Linked DNA regions of Homo sapiens. The protein of the gene in region 1 interacts with the protein of each later gene in a pairwise test. Each region holds a gene or a part of one and is shown in the gene's direction. Other genes may lie near its edges.

What was found.
Region 2: the proteins of TLK1 (region 1) and ZSCAN22 interact in binary tests that used the Homo sapiens proteins (3 or more experiments, as listed by UniProt).

The regions. Positions count from the first base shown.
Region 1 is NC_000002.12:171,154,279-171,158,031, reverse strand, and holds part of TLK1 (serine/threonine-protein kinase tousled-like 1), read left to right. Parts: intron 1-3,753. UniProt on the Homo sapiens protein: Rapidly and transiently inhibited by phosphorylation following the generation of DNA double-stranded breaks during S-phase. This is cell cycle checkpoint and ATM-pathway dependent and appears to regulate processes involved in chromatin assembly.
Region 2 is NC_000019.10:58,336,841-58,340,593, forward strand, and holds part of ZSCAN22 (zinc finger and SCAN domain-containing protein 22), read left to right. Parts: intron 1-1,413; coding exon 1,414-2,486; 3' UTR 2,487-3,753. UniProt on the Homo sapiens protein: May be involved in transcriptional regulation.

The DNA.
Region 1 (3,753 bases):
TCCAGGTATACATGTTAGTACATTATATAAATTGATGAAGTTTTAGAAAGCTTTTTAACTGCTAGTTACTGCTAGTAAGAACCGTTAATATTAATGGAACTTGAATGTATTGTATGTATCACGGTGAAAACTAACTTTGTTTCTTGAAAAATTGAGTCAGTTTAACATATAGTAATAGAATAATTGAAACTTAAAAGAGATACACATGTATGTGAACTTACATAAATATTCTATGTGATGAACTCCTTTTAGGCAGACTTAACTTTGAAAATGGGTTATTTTTAAAAATATGCCATAAGCATCTGTAAAAGTTACTTATTTTGAAGTTTTGACATTTGAAACCACAAACCTAAGATTATGATCTGATTATTTTTGATGCTGTATGTTGTAGTTTTGTTTCTTTTTACCTTATTACCATTATCATATTCACATAGTTTTATCACAAATAAAATACAGCTCTATAAGATTTGGGAATCTATTAGAATTTAGGAAATTATGTGATAAATATAGTATAGATTTCTTTCCCTCGGGTCCCAAAGCTTTTCGCTTGTCAGTCTTGTGGTTCTGTTAGAGGAGTTCAGCGATGTAGCTCTAGATTTTCTGTTGAATCTTTTAAACCTATAATCTCCATCCCATTTTGTCTTCTATAATCCTGTGATTAAGGGAGTGACGAGTTAAAAAGGTTTTCAAGTAAAGGCCAGTTTTGCTTTGTTGAAGTCTAGGAACCTAGTGTCATATTGGCTAGATAAGTAGTTGGGTTTTTTTGCATATCAGTACATGGGTACTTTTGAATGGGTTATTGCTGAGAATCAGATGATTGATTATATAGAACACTTGCATTTTCTTTCCTGCTCCAACCTGCCAATTATAAATAATTTGCTTTACTTTTTTGTAAATAGTGAAAGCTTGGTCAAAAAGATTGTATGGGCCAGGAGTGGTGGCTCAAGCCTGTAATCCCAGCACTTTGGGAGGCCTAGGCAGGTGGATTGCTTGAGCTCAGGAGTTCAAGACCAGCCTGGACAACATGGTGAAACCCTGTCTCTACAAAAAATAGAAAAATTAGCTGGGCATGGTTCAGGAGGCTGAGTTGGGAGGATTGCTTGAGCCTGGGAGGTGGAGGCTGCGGTAAGCCTAGATAGCGTCATTGCATTCCAGCCTGGGTGACAGAGTGAGATACTTTCTCAAAAAAAAGATGGCATGATAGTTCGATTAAACTGTAAACTTCCTCTGTTTCCATATTTAAAGACTGCATTCCTTAGAAGAATTAAAGTAATTGACTTCAGATGATTTAGTAATGAGATGTTAAAAACGAAGGTGTACCAGATGGCCCTGTAGGCCTTTAATTTTTTGAAATCACTAGCTGGAGGAGGACAGGGTTATGTGTTTAAGGATTCTAGCTCATGAATAGATATGTGACAGATGTCTCCTTTACAATGGCACATTTACATATTAGAGGAGAGAGATAAAAGAGAGAAACCAGAACGGAGGTTTGAAAATCTTATGAGAAATAGACTATGCTTTAGCCTTTTGGCCTCAGGGCCTCTTTACTCTCTTAACAATTATTGAGGACCCCAAGAGATTTAGGTTTATGTAGATTATATCTACTAATATTTGCTCTTTTAGAAATTAAATGACAATTTCAAATATATTTATTAATTTAAACTGTGTTGTAAATAGAATTTTTTATGAAGAATAAATATGTCCTAAAACCAAAGAAACTAGACCAGTGGCATTGTTTTATATTTTTGCAAATCACCTTGATTTCTGGCTTACTTGGAGAAGACAGCTGGATTTTTTGTCTGCCTTCAGTCTGTTATGATGTTTTGGTTGAGATATGTGAAGAGAATCCAGCTTCATGTAGATATATGGTTGGAAAAGGAAAGAGTGAGTATTCTTCTTTGGTATTACATCAAAATTCAACAAGTGGCAGTTTTTTGTTTTTTGTTTTTTAAGTTACTGACAATGTGAAAGCATATTGTATTCCAAAAATGTCTCTAGGACCTACAGGAAGTCTATGGAAGATACATTTAAAGAAGAGACTAACGGTTGGGAGACGTGATAGCTGTCTCCAGGTATTTAAGAAACTTGGATTTCAGTAAATAGGATTTAAAAACCTGTTAATTTTAATAAATAGGAGGGAGAATAGATCCATTCTCCTGCTTTAGAAGGCAGACCAACGGGTGAAAATTAGGAAGACATTGAGGTCAGTCTAATTTTTTACCAGAATGTAAGAACTGTATGACAACTAGACTTGGAACAGTGGAACAGTGGAGCAACAATGGAACTCGCAACAGCTAACAACAATGGAAAGAAGTAGTTAGTTTTGAGAATTTAAAGTGGACTACAGGGACATATTTTTTGGGGAGGTGGAGATAAATTCTGTAGATTCTTACGATGAGTGCTATTGGATTAGTGACTTAAGGCTTCATCCAATTTAAAAATGTAAACATTCTGTGATTTTTTAAAAATCCCTAAATATAGTTAAACTATACTTATATATATTCATTAACGTTTTTGAATGTTCTTGCAAGTCAGTAGTATGAAACTACTGTTGTTGTTGACTTTATTACTATTTTGCATTTTTATTGTGCTTTTCCTCTGAGGATTTTTCTGTCTTTTCTTGTGTCAGCAAGATCAGTCTTCATGAAATCTTGCTAAATTCCCTGTGAAATATAATAAGCTTAAGACATTTTAGAGAACCAAATGCTGTTTATGATACAGTTTAGTAGAGTTGTAATATATTTCAGCACAGAATTTTAGAATACTATGGGGGCTGATTTTCAATTTTGTAAGAGAAATTATGAGCATAGTTTATATAGTCTTTTATTTGTAATTGTTTACGTGATTTCAGAAGTAATATGCTTAAGTTATTCTAATGTTTTTAAAGCTAGAGAGTCTGAAAAGAGGGAAGAAGAAAGAAAAGTGTTTAAATTGATCTCTTTTGAATTTAAAATGCATATTAAGTATAACTAGAACATAAAATGAAGAATTTAAATTCTCATCTTATTCCTAGAATTATACCTATAATATGTATCATTACTTATAACAATTCATATTTTAATTTTGCATGGCACATAATCTCTTCTGTGAGTTGGATTTTTAGGTGGTGGGAATTTAAGCATAAATTCTCATAACTTTCTTGGGGTCAATTTAATATTAATAAGTGTAGTAAGTAATAATACCCAGCTTGAGACCTCATGTACTTGTTGCATTTGGATTTAAAGCTCATTTCCTATAGAAGAGCTGTAGAAATCAGTCATGTAGTTTCATAAACTCCTTCATGCTTGTTAATAATTTTCAAGAATCTTAAAATAAATTACAGGAATATTGTTATGAAGTAGTAGAAGCAGTATGGTATAGGGGAGAAAGTGATTGTAGTTGGGATCTGAGGATAGTCTTTACTTTGCTATTAACTAGCTGTGTGACCTTGGGCAAGTTGCTTATCTCTGCTTCAGTTCCATAAACTAAGAATTACAGAGCTGAACCGGATCTTGGAAGCAATCTAGTACAAACCTCTCATTTTACAGATGAGGAAGCAGATAATTTGCACAGGCTTTCACTGTAAGACAGTTGGGCCCAAAATTCAGTTTTCTGACTCTCAGGTTGGTTTTTTTTTTCCATTATACTTTACAGCCTCTTTTCATCTGTAAAATGAGAGCATTGGATTAGAGGCTCTCAAAGGTCTCTTCCAGCTCAAAAATATTGTCATTCCTGTGACATTAGTCGTAATATAATTTATTAGGGGAAAGTTTG
Region 2 (3,753 bases), on another chromosome or scaffold:
GCTTACAGATGGGGAGACTGAGTCCCAGATGAGGGCAGGACTGATTAAGGTGGTAGACCTGGGGTTTGAGTCCAGTTTCTGCACTGCTGAGCCCCACTGTGGACTTGAGCAGTGGGTATTCCACCTGTCTCTGCCTCCTCCCTGGAATCCATCCAGTAGATGTGCCAGATTATGTGTCCTTTGCACCCATGCAGGGCAGGTCAGTGCGAGCATTCCTCTACCTCATGCACACTCTGATCTCCAAGAGCACCTCCGCCACACTCTGCCTTCATAGTACTTTACAATGTAGGGGCTTGAGAGGCCAGATGGGTACCTCATGTACTCACCCCCAGCAGCCATATTCTACCTGGGGTTCTACTTGCAGAAATTTTCACCATCGTGGGCTTCTGGATGGATTCCCTCATTCAGCCAGAATTCACTGAGCACCTGTGGACACATCCAGGCCTAGAGGCAAGGTGTTGAGTGTGAGGGACAGAACCGCAACCTCACAGAGATCAGAGCCTGCAGGGGACACATCCAGGCCTAGACGCAAGGCGTTGAGTGTGAGGGACAGAACTCCAACCCCACAGAGATCAGAGCCTGCAGGGGACACATCCAGGCCTAGACGCAAGGTGTCGAGTGTGAGGGACAGAACTCCAACCCCACAGAGATCAGAGCCTGCAGGGGACACATCCAGGCCTAGACGCAAGGTGTCGAGTGTGAGGGACAGAACTCCAACCCCACAGAGATCAGAGCCTGCAGGGGACACATCCAGGCCTAGACGCAAGGTGTCGAGTGTGAGGGACAGAACTCCAACCCCACAGAGATCAGAGCCTGCAGGGGACACATCCAGGCCTAGACGCAAGGTGTCGAGTGTGAGGGACAGAACTCCAACCCCACAGAGATCAGAGCCTGCAGGGGACACATCCAGGCCTAGACGCAAGGTGTCGAGTGTGAGGGACAGAACTCCAACCCCACAGAGATCAGAGCCTGCAGGGGACACATCCAGGCCTAGACGCAAGGTGTTGAGTGTGAGGGACAGAACTGCAACCCCACAGAGATCAGAGCCTGCAGGGGTGCATGTGCTCAGGGTCCTGACAAGGACAGACCCTCCCTCTCTCTCTGTCTCCAGATCAGTTCCACATCAGGGTTTCTCCTCTTGACTCTTGAGCCAAAATTGGGAGCCTTGAAAGATGGCGAGTTTGGTGGGAGGAGGAGAAATCAGAACCCATGGTGTAGTTTTGGATGGTGTGGGAGGACAGCCCTGCACCCTTTGTCATCCAAGACACCAAATGAGAAACTTCCCCTTGGAACTGGGGCCAGATGTTAGGAACGGGCCACATCTCCCCTTACAAAGTGTGACCGGGGCCCTCGGCAGAGTAGGGGAGGCTTGGTGTGGTAGGAGGAGTGACAGTGTGGTTCGGACTGTTTCAGGATGGGATCCAGGAGCCGAGCCCACAGAGGCAAGCTGCAAGCAGAGTGACCTGGGAGAGTCAGAGCCATCAAATGTCACTGAGACCCTCATGGGAGGTGTTTCCCTTGGACCCGCCTTTGTCAAGGCATGTGAACCTGAGGGCAGCTCAGAGAGGTCTGGACTATCAGGGGAGATCTGGACAAAGTCTGTCACCCAACAGATCCACTTCAAGAAAACTTCAGGGCCTTACAAGGATGTCCCCACAGACCAGCGTGGCCGTGAATCTGGTGCCTCGAGGAACAGTTCTAGTGCGTGGCCAAACCTCACCTCCCAAGAGAAGCCTCCTTCAGAAGACAAATTTGATCTGGTGGATGCTTATGGGACAGAGCCTCCATACACCTACTCAGGGAAGAGGTCCTCCAAGTGTCGCGAGTGTAGGAAGATGTTCCAGAGTGCTTCGGCGCTCGAGGCACACCAGAAGACCCATTCTCGGAAGACCCCATATGCCTGCAGCGAGTGTGGGAAAGCCTTCAGCCGGAGCACTCACCTCGCCCAGCACCAGGTTGTCCACACAGGGGCGAAGCCCCATGAGTGTAAGGAATGTGGGAAGGCCTTCAGCCGAGTCACCCACCTGACTCAGCACCAAAGGATTCATACTGGAGAGAAACCCTACAAATGTGGGGAATGTGGTAAAACCTTCAGCCGCAGCACTCACCTCACCCAGCACCAGCGGGTGCACACGGGGGAGCGGCCCTACGAGTGTGACGCGTGTGGGAAAGCCTTCAGCCAGAGCACGCACCTGACTCAACACCAGCGCATCCACACCGGGGAGAAGCCCTACAAGTGTGACGCGTGTGGCCGAGCCTTCAGCGACTGCTCAGCCCTGATCCGACATCTGAGAATCCACTCTGGAGAGAAGCCATATCAGTGTAAGGTTTGTCCGAAGGCCTTTGCACAGAGCTCCTCCCTCATTGAGCACCAGAGGATCCACACGGGAGAGAAGCCTTATAAGTGCAGCGACTGTGGGAAGGCCTTCAGTCGTAGCTCAGCCCTGATGGTTCACTTGCGGATCCACATCACGGTGCTGCAATGACCGGAAGTCGCCCCTGGGGGCGTAGCACAGCGTCTTCTCGGAGGCTCGAGGTCTAAGAGAAACGCTGAGTTCCTGAAGAGCCACAGACAGGGTGGGTGATTGATGAGTTGTCAAAATGATAGGTGCCTGAGGGCAGACTCGGGCTGTCTAGGAACCACTCTGCATTTGAGGAACCCTGATGAGCACAAGGTGATTCAGGCCAGCTGGAGAAGCTTCCAGAAGGGCCCTGCACTGCTACCCTCTATTTCCCACTCAGGGCTGTCCCAGAGAGAAGGCAGCCGAACTGAGGATTTAGACTGGTTCTGAGGGCCAGGGCAAATGAAGGCGCATGTCTCTCAGAACTCAGCGTCCCAAGACGCTCTGGGCGGGCCAACTGTAGCTTGTTCTCATGTGGTTCTTCTTGCCTGCTTTTCTGCTGCTTAGCCCAGAACGGACACCTGCCATGCCCACCTCTGTGCCTTGGCACCTACTATTTCCACTCCAGACTATTTTGTGCCTAACTGCAAGGCTGACTTTTGAGACTGCCTCTTCCACGATGCCTTTTCTACACTCTGCCTCTCTCATGGTTTCCTGTCGTAATCAGTGGTGCTGCTTGACACCTGCCCAGCATGTTCCTGTCTCTCCTTTTCCTTCCACATCCCACCAGTCACCAGCGCTATTGTTTTAACCTAAAGCTTATCTGTAATTCACCTCCTTTTCCACCACTGCTACCTTATGTGAGCCCTCATTGCCTCTTGCCTGGATTATAGCCGGGGTCTCCTTCCTGACCACTTCCTGCCTTTATTCTCTGCCCCTGTATCACTCTCCAGGGGACTCTTGATATTACTTAGATCTGACTGTGTCACTCCAAGGTGGAAAGCTCTCCAACCCATCTTCTACAGCACAGCTTCCTGAACAGGGTATAAGTATGCTGAGATGCAGGCTGCTCTGGGCCCCGAGCAACCTCTCCAGTTATCCTCATATGCATGTATGAATACTGTCATTTTTCTGTGCGTGCAGTGAAAATGGCCTCATCTCATACCATGGCTCCACCTTCCATACACCAGCCACACGGAACTACTGTGGTCCCTGAAGGAGCCATACATTTTCCCACTTATGTGCCTTTGTACCTGTGCCTGGAACCCTCCTCTTCTTTTTCTTTTTCTTTTCTTTTCTTTTTTTTTTTTTGAGATGGAGTCTCGCTCTGTCGCCCAGGCTGGAGTGCAGTGGCGCGATCTCGGCTCACTGCAAGCTCTGCCTCCCGGGTTCATGCCATTCTCCTGCCTCA